Regions from separate parts of the Homo sapiens genome. Here region 1 is linked to region 2. Evidence: fine-mapped expression QTL. A gene starts in region 2. The other region holds a variant in brackets. All regions are shown on one strand. Distances are from middle to middle.

Region 1 (4,387 bases), 82 kb after region 2:
CTCACACCCCCTGCCTTGGGCTAAAGTCTCCCAGCTGGTAATAATACCACCACCATCAGCACCAGGTGCTTGACATGCACTATTCCATGTGCCCCCCACCCCCAACCCTGCCCCGCAAGGCAGGTGCGCTGGTGACCTGTTGGAGACGGGGGCAAAGCTCAGCATGGAGCCCAAGGCTGAGAAGCTCAGGAGCAGCAGGACTGAGATTTGCACCCATTTTTCTCTCACTCCCCGAACCTGGGTTTGTGCCTCCTTGGATGCACCCGGTCATTCTTGGGACTTCTGGGGTCCAGATGTGCGGGAGACTGGCCAGCAACACACAGCGGCAGGGGCAGGAGAGGACACATTCCAGTCCGTGTCAGCAATGTCCCCTGAACAAAACCAACCCCATTTAAAAGCAGTCTGGGTGTTTCTGTTTATCCAGTAGTGGGTACTTTGGTAAAGTGAGTAATCCTTTCTCCCTCCAGCACTTGCCCTCCTCCCTGCCATGTGGTTTTCTTTTAGAAATCTGGAGTGTCCCAATTTTGTTTAAAGCAGGAGCTGCCTGGAGGCTGACAGGCGGAAGGGCAGATGTCCCTGGGCTGATGATGCTGATAATAGCAATAACAGTAGCTCACAGGTGCTGAGCCCTTACCGTGCACTAAGCATTCACTCATATCATTTCTGAAATCCTCCCAGCAGGCCTACAATGATAAGCATTTCACAAAAGGGAAAATGAGGTTTTGGGAGGCTAAAAGCATGCCCAGCAGCTCACAGCTAGCTGGTAGGTGGCATTTCTTCAAGGCCCGCACTGTTAACCCTCACACCTCCTTGATCATCCCCTGGCCCGTGGATACTCATTCATTTGGAATTCACTACATCCGGCCTCCCCACCTCCTCCTGTGCTTCCCTAAATGGGGCCATCAGCCTTCTCTCACCCGTCGTCAATCCCTGCTGTCTGCAGGGGGAGGGAAGTAAAAAGCTGACAGGAAGGAGTTACATGTAAAATGGTAACCTGTAGATTGAGACTGTTCTCCAACAGGTCTGAGGGCTCTAGGCAGAGGGAGGGGAAGCGGGGATATGAGGGCTGTGGAAAGGATGGGACCAGACTGCCAAGCAAAGAATGCTATGTGTGGTTCTGCAGGTTGTGTACAGTTCTGCAGGTTGTGTACTGCACAACCGCTTCCCATCTAAGGGGGCACCTTTACTTCATAGACATAGTAACTCTGTGATCATTTTCTGGCCGACCTTGAGTAAAGTATCTTCTAACGAAATCAGTATATTATGACACTTCACTGACAGATGGAAAAAGATACCTTGTGGAAGAAGTGTCTTTTCCTAATTTGCTCAAAGCCCAAAGCTTTGGCTCTGGCCGAGGTGTGAAATGCTGAGCTTCTTGAAGGCGGGCCTCAAGTTTGACATTAGTACCCCTTTTCTTGTTTCCCCATTCTGAAGCTTCAGGTGGAGAGTCTCCTGAATTCAGCTGATCAGGTGCTGGGCACAGTTCTGCCCTGGTTGTTACTGGTGGATCAGCTGCCCCTTGGGACTAACATTTAACTTTATTTTTGAGACAGTCTTGCTCTGTCGCCCAGGCTGGAATGCAGTGGCACGAGCTTGGCTCACTGCAACCTCTGCCTCCTGGGTTCAAGCGATTCTTCTGTCTCAGCCTCCTGAGTAGCTGGGACTACAGGCATGCACCACCACGCCTGGCTAATTTTCATATTTTTAGTAGAGATGGGGTTTTGCCATGTTGCTCAGGTTGGTCTAGAACTCCTGGGCTCAAGCAGTCCGCCCGCCTCACCCTCCCAAAGTGCTGGGATTACAGGCGTGAGCCACCTCGCTGGGCCGGGACTAACATTTTAAAGATTGCTCAAGTCATTTTAGCCATCTTCTTCTGGTCTTATCTGATTTGCACTGATCCTCTCCCAGCCGTCCTGAGTTCTCCAGGGATTTTGTGTGCTCGGAGCTGCCTCTCCACAGTTGTGTCTGTCTTCAGGCTTCTACGGCTTAGTGACCAGAAGGCAGGTGGGCCCCAGGGAGCGGATGGAGGATCCAAGCTCTGTATAAATTGAGTAGCCTCGAGCAAAATCAGTTCCTGTCTCTGGATCTTAGTTTTAAATTTCAGTTTAAAATAATTGGGCTGGCCTAAGTGATTTCTTGGCCCTTTCCATCTCTAAAATTCATTTATTTACCATCAAGGTCTGGGGATAAGTGGCAAATAAGACTGACGTACTTCTGACCTCATGGAGCTTACACTCGAATTGGGCAGACAGACAAGTAAACAGGCGATGACACTTGGTGGGGGCAGGTTCGCTTCCTGTTGCGGTTGTAACAAATTACCACCCATATAGTGGCTGAAAACAACACACTGATTTTCTCAGCGCTCTAGATGTCAGAAGTCCACAGTGGGTCTCACTGGGCTGAATTCCCTCTGGAGGCTCTTGGCGGGGAACCTGTTTCCTTACCTTTCCCAGCGTCTGGAGGCTGCCTGCCATTCCTGTGGTTC[G/A]TGGCCTTTCCCTTCTCAAAACCCAGGGATAGCAGGTAGCTGAGTCCTTTCCACGTGGCACCTCTTTGTTCTTTCTTCTGTCTCCCTCCTCCACCTTCCAGGACCCTGGTGGTCCCACTGGGTTCACTGGGATAATGCAGAATGTGCAGAATGATCTCCCAATTCTAACATCTTTTTTTGTTTGTTTTTGAGACAGAGTCTCGCTCCATCACCCAGGCTGGAGTGCAGTGGTGCAATGTCGGCTCACTGCAACCTCTGCCTCCCATATTCAAGCGATTCTCTTGCCTCAGCCTTCCGAGTAGCTGGAATTACAGGTGCGTGCCACCATGCCCAGCTAATTTTTGTATTTTTAGTAGAGACAGGGTTTTGCCATGTTGGCCAGGCTGGTCTCAAACTCCTGGCCTCAAGTGATCCACCTGCCTCGGCCTCCCAAAGTGCTGGGATTACATGTGTGAGCCACTGCGCCAGGCCCCTATTCTAACATCATTTAATTAGCAACCTTAATTCCACCTGGAACCTCAGTTCTCCTTGGCCATGTCAGGTAACAGATCCACAGGTTGTAGGAATTAATATGCCTTTTGGGGTCATTATTCAGCTTACCACGGGGAAAGTGCAGAGGGCTGTGAACTCCCTGGCAACAGCACCCCACCCACACACGGGTGTGTCATGACTCCCAAGACCTTGGCATAGCCAGAGTGCAGCTGGGCTGGGGAGGTCAGGTTTCCTCTGTCAGTTGGGACCTGACACAGTACAGGGGAAGCTGTGAGGTGAGGGAGCACTACACAAAGTGTGTGTGTGTGTGTGTGTGTGTGTCCCTCAGGCAGATGGAAAGTGATTGCAGAGGAAGGGTCTGAGTTGCAAAGAGGATTAGTGAGCAAAGAAAGGCATACTTGTGTGGGAGACTCAACATACTTAAAATATTAGGTTGGTGCAAAAGTAATTGCGGTTTTAACTCTTTAATGGCAAAAACCACAATTACTTTTGCACCAAACTAATAATAATGATGTTATTTAATTTGTCATTAAAACAAAAAAAGAGCCAAGTGCAACAAAAATACCCAGCAATAATAGAACAAGCATCAGGAGTGAGAGACTGGAGTGAAGTGCTCCAAAACCCTTATATTGTTCAAGGAGAGGGGAAAGATACTAACTTTAATATTTTATAACCTATGGGAAATTTCAAGAATTACAGAAGTAAAGATCATAGCATAATGCATCTTTTTTTTTTTTTTTTTTTTTTGGAGACAGAGTCTTGCTTTGTCGCCCAGGCTGGAGTGCAGTGGCGCAATCTCGGCTCACTGCAAGCTCCGCCTCCCGGGTTCACGCCATTCTCCTGCCTCAGCCTGCCGAGTAGCTGGGACTACAGGCGCCTGCCACCGCGCCCGGCTAATTTTTTGTATTTTTAGTAGAGACGGGGTTTCACCGTGTTAGCCAGGATGGTCTCGATCTCCTGACCTTGTGATCTGCCCACCTTGGCCTCCCAAAGTACTGGGATTACAGGCGTGAGCCACCACACCCGGCCAGCATAATGAATCTTAACCCAGTTTACCCTTAATAACTGGCTACTCTTATTTTTAACTATCTCCACACCTGTTTTTTTTTTTCCCTATCTCCTATACTATGGATTATTTTGGAGAAAATCTTGACTATCAATATTAATTAAATTTAGATTTTGAGAGGTTAAGCATGTAAGTTAACATTTTTAGGGAACCAATTTGGAAAAAAAGAGAAAGGAAATAGAGGGTATAACTTTCTTTCTTTTCTTTTTTTTTTTAGACAGGGTCTTGCTCTGTCACCCAGGCTGGAGTGCAGTGGCATGATCACAACTCACTGCAATCTCAACCTTCCCAGCTCAGGTGATTCTCCCACCTCAGCTTCCCAAGTAGCTGGGACTAGAGGTGCA
Region 2 (4,387 bases):
CTCAGCCTCCCAAAGTGCTAGGATTACAGGCATGAGCCACCACGCCTGGCCTCTTTTTTCAATTTCTTTTTTTGAGACGGGGTTGGGGGGGGTCTCACTCTGTCACCCATGCTGGAGTACAGTGGCATGATCTCAGTTCACTGCAACCTCTGCCTCCTGGGACCAAGCAATCCTCCCACCTACAGGCACACCACACCCGGCTAATTTTTGTATTTTTTGTAGAGACACGAGGGTTTTACCACATTGCCCAGGCTGGCTGCAAACCCCTTTTAAATGCACGTTAGTGTGAATAATTAAAAAACTGCTGAGTTCAAAATATGATCATATGTCATCTTTTTATTTGCTATTAGTAGATAAAGACAGTTTAACTTAGCCTTAGTTCAAAAGTACCTTCTGGAGAAACTAAGTTACTTAGGTTTTGTTTTGAAGCAGTTTGAAAATCACATTAGAAATAAATACAGTAATCCACCTGGACAACATGTCGGTATCCCATCTCCACAAAAAATACAAAAATTAATCGGGTGGTGGTGCACGCCTGAGGTCCCAGCTACTCGGAGGCCGAGGCGGGAGGATGGTTTGGGCCTGGGAGGTGGAGGCTGCAGAGAGCGATGATTGCGCTACTGCACTCCAGCCTGGATAAGAGGGAGACCCCGTCTAAAAAAAAAAAAAAGAAGAAAGACAAAGAAATAAAAACAGTAAGCGATTCCCACATAAACGCACTGCTTTGAGGCACTGAAAAATAATCAGCATATTTCTTCAGTTTTGCTAAAGCCTAAGCAATGTTATTGCGCACTTGGGGAATAGAAAGAGTTTAGGGGTGTGCAAAAATCTCGGGAAAATAAAACTTTTTCGAAGGGAACCAACGGGTTCCATCCCCTAAATACTGCACGAGGCTGCCCAAAGATCCCCGTGTGATATTTTTTAATTATGGAAGATAATTACATTCCTCAGAGCTAACCGAGATTCCACCACACAGGATTGTGTAGAAACTCCTGCTTTATTTATGCACAAGCTCGATCACATGATGCAGGAGCTCTCCACTGGTGGGGGTTGGGGGCTCTGGGATACACTGCGAGGGTCCCACTCCCGGCTCTGTACGGCCTATGGTGTGTCCGTGCACAATGACGGCCTGGGCCTCCATTTGCTCCTCCGTGAAGTGGGCGTCAGACGTTTCCCACGGCCCCTCGGTCCTTGGTGAGAGCTAAAAGGAGACAATGTGTGTACAACGCGCAGCACCCGGCCCAGCAGTCTCCAGCTGCCCGGTCCCACGATGGGGGCCGCCCGGGCGGGCAGTCACCCGTGGCTCCGAGGCAGCCGCCCGCCCCCGGCTCGGGGGAACCGGACCCTGCCTCCTCCCCGCCGCGCCGCGCCGCGCCGCCAGCCGGCTGCTCCCGCCCGGCCCGGCCCCGCCCGCGCAGCGCCCCTCGCAGCTGCCCAGCCTGGGAGCGCTCGACGTCCCGGCTCCGCCGGGCAACCCGGGGCGTGCAGGGGGAGCTCCACCCCGGAATCTTGGAGGTCCCCGGGCTCCCTCGGGCCGGGCAGGCCCCACAGGCGGCCGCGGGCGGGCGGGCGAGGGCGGCGGGCCGGGTCCCCTGCACCAAGGAGGCCGGGCTCCGCAGTCCCCAGTCCAGGCCCAACAGGGAGGGGGCCGCGCCCTCCTCATGCGGTCGGCGCCGGGGGCCGCGGGAGCCCGGGCTGCCCCGGGCCGAGGTGGAGCAGAGGCAGAACCAGGGTGCGGGCTTCCAGGCAGGGCGCCTACGTCCTCACCGATCAGCCCGACTCCAAGCATCAGCTGAGTGTCCGCCACCTCGGCCGCAGCCATCTTCCGCCGCCGCGGCGCGCAGCTCTGGCTGCCGCCTGCAGGACCGGCCTCGCACCCGAACCCCGCCCCGCCCGCCGTAGGGCCCGCCCCCATCACAGGCCCCGCCTCCCTCCCCGGCCCATCATAAGCCCCGCCTCCCTCCCCGGACCATCACAGGCCCCGCCTCCCGCTGTAGGACCCGCCTCCCTCCCGCCCCGCCCCATCACAGGACCATCAACCCCCCCCGTCGGCCCCGCCCCACCCGCAGGCCCACCTATTCCAGCCCCAGTCCTCCCTGCCAGGACCTGCTCAGTGCAGCTCCACTCGTCTTCTGCCCGTGGCCCTTCGCCCTTGGAAACCTCCTTGAGTCTCCGCAGCCTGCCTCAATTTCTCTAATCCAGCTGTTCATCCTTCTTCTTCTCAATCCACTCCAATCTTTCTTCCCGTCGTAGGCTTTCCTTGTTCTACCTCTGCCCTCTGGTCAAGCTCAAAAGAACAGGTCACCTTGTTCCTAAAAAGAGGCGTCCTGAGGATGGAGGAAGGGTCTCCATCCATTCCTTCATCCAGCCACCCCCAAAACAAAACAAAACAAAAATTGAGGGCCTAATAAGGCACTGGGGATACCTTATAGGGCTGAACAAGACAGAGCAGTCCACTGGGGAAGACAGACAATTGGCGAGTAGAATAAATAATCCAGGCCAGGTGAGGTGGCTCACGCCTCTGATCCCAACACGATGGGAGGCCAAGGCAGGAGCATCACTTGAGGTCAGGAGTTCGAGATCAGCCTTGGCAACATAGTGAGACCCATCTCTACAAAAAAAATTTAAAAATTAGCCAGGCATAGTGGCATGCACCTGTAGTCCCAGCTACTCTCAGGCTGAGGCAGGAAAATCATTTGAGCCCAGGATTTTGAGGCTGCAGTGAGCTGTGATCCTGCCACTCACTCCAGCCTGGGTGACAGAGTGAGACCCTGTCTCAAAAATAAATAAATAGATAAATAGATGACAGATAGATAGATAATAGTAAAAAAGCTCAGAATGATATGTGCCCTGGAGGCAACGATATGTGCCCTGGAGGCAGTGTGTTAGAGAGTGGAGGTGTGCTGCTCTAAAATGGGTGTCAAGAAAGGCTTCTCTGAGAAAGGGATATTTGAACTGAGATCTGAATGATAGTAACGACTCAGACATTGGAAGATTTGGCTCCAAGATTCCTCCTCTGGATCTACTGTCTGCCCCAACCCCAAGTCACACAGAGCTAATTAGGGAGGGTCCTTGGTGTCTGCAGGAATACAATCCCACCCTCATCTTTTTTTCTTTTTTCTTTTTTTTTTTTTTTTTTTGAGATGGAGTCTTGTTCAGTTGCCCGGCCTGGAGTGCAATAGCGCGATCTCGGCTCACTGCAACCTCCGCCTCTCGGTTTTAAGGGATTCTCCTGCCTCAGCCTCCTGCGTAGCTGGGATTACAGGCGTGAGCCACTGCGCCTGTTTTTTTCTTTTTTCTTTCTTTTTTTTTTGGAGACAGTTTCTCGCTATGTTGCCCAGGCTGCAATTTATACATTGGAGTATATTTAGGTGTGTATATGGCATTCCTGTTTCTCTCACTAAACTGAACCCCTGGAAGGCAGCACCCTGAACTACGTGCCCTTCTATTCTCTGGGCTTCCTGTTGTAGTATAACTGTTAATGTGTCTAGTTTTCACAGAAAAGAAGCAGGTGTTTAGAGGCTGAGGAGTGGGACACAGATGTGGAATCAGTTTGGAAGCCAACTAGAAACTTGCACTAGGTGGGGCACGGTGGCTCACGCCTGTAATCCTAGCACTTTGGGAGGCTGAGGTGGGTGGATCACGAGGTCAGGAGATTGAGACCAACCCGGCTAAAACGGTGAAACCCTGTCTCTACTAAAAATACAAAAAATTAGCCGGGCGTGGTGGCAGGTGCCTGTAGTCCCAGCTACTTGTGAGGCTGAGGCAGGAGAATGGCGTGAACCCGGGAGGCGGAGCTTGCAGTGAGCCGAGATCACGCCACTGCACTCCAGCCTGGGCGACAGAGCGAGACTCCATCTCAAAAACAAACAAACAAAAAATCACAAAAATTAGCTAGGCATGGTGGCAGGTGCCTGTAATCCCAGCTACTCAGGAAGCTGAGGCAGACTGGCTTGAACCCAAGAGAGGACGGTTGCAGTGAGCCAAGATCGCGCCACTGCATTCCAGCCTGGGCGACAGAGTGAGACTCCATCTCAGAAAAAAAAAGAAAAGAAATGAGGATGAAGACGATGATGAACAGATAATTAAACAAAGGAGAGGGAGATGATAGTGGGTGCAGGGAGGGGAAAGATAATGAGGGGTGTGTCCAGGCTCCAGTGAGTGGGATGATACCTGGAATTGACACCTCCTTCCCTCCTGTTTCTCCACAAGTGCTGTCTTACCTGCCAGACAGGTACACCAGAGTGAAGGGAAAAGGAATAGAGGGTGGAGAGAGCAGAGGCGACGCATCCCCAATCTTTAAAAGTAAGACTGACCTCTGCGCTGTCACAGACAGATGGAGCTGGGGTGTGGAAACAGACAACCTGAGTTCCAACCCCCTTGCCCA

Evidence for each region. PIP is the estimated chance that this variant, and not a neighbour inherited with it, causes the effect.
Region 1: its variant is the best candidate, but not a certain one, in a credible set for the expression of DENND10 in blood mononuclear cells (TOPMed, PIP 0.76).

What each region holds. Positions count from the first base shown.
Region 1 is chr10:119,019,536-119,023,922 of GRCh38, reverse strand. The region is part of intron 2 of LINC03036 (long intergenic non-protein coding RNA 3036); the gene reads left to right. Among named protein-coding and RNA genes, the nearest start is that of LINC03036, 7.8 kb to the left of the region's middle. RefSeq lists enhancers at 331-973, 974-1,616. The variant G/A (reference allele first, on the strand shown) is at 2,486.
Region 2 is chr10:119,101,578-119,105,964 of GRCh38, reverse strand. It overlaps DENND10 (DENN domain containing 10), which reads right to left and starts at 1,852. Exons shown (of 9, transcript NM_207009.4): 1 at 1,768-1,852. The coding sequence starts at 1,822. RefSeq lists an enhancer at 1-142 and a silencer at 1,284-2,063.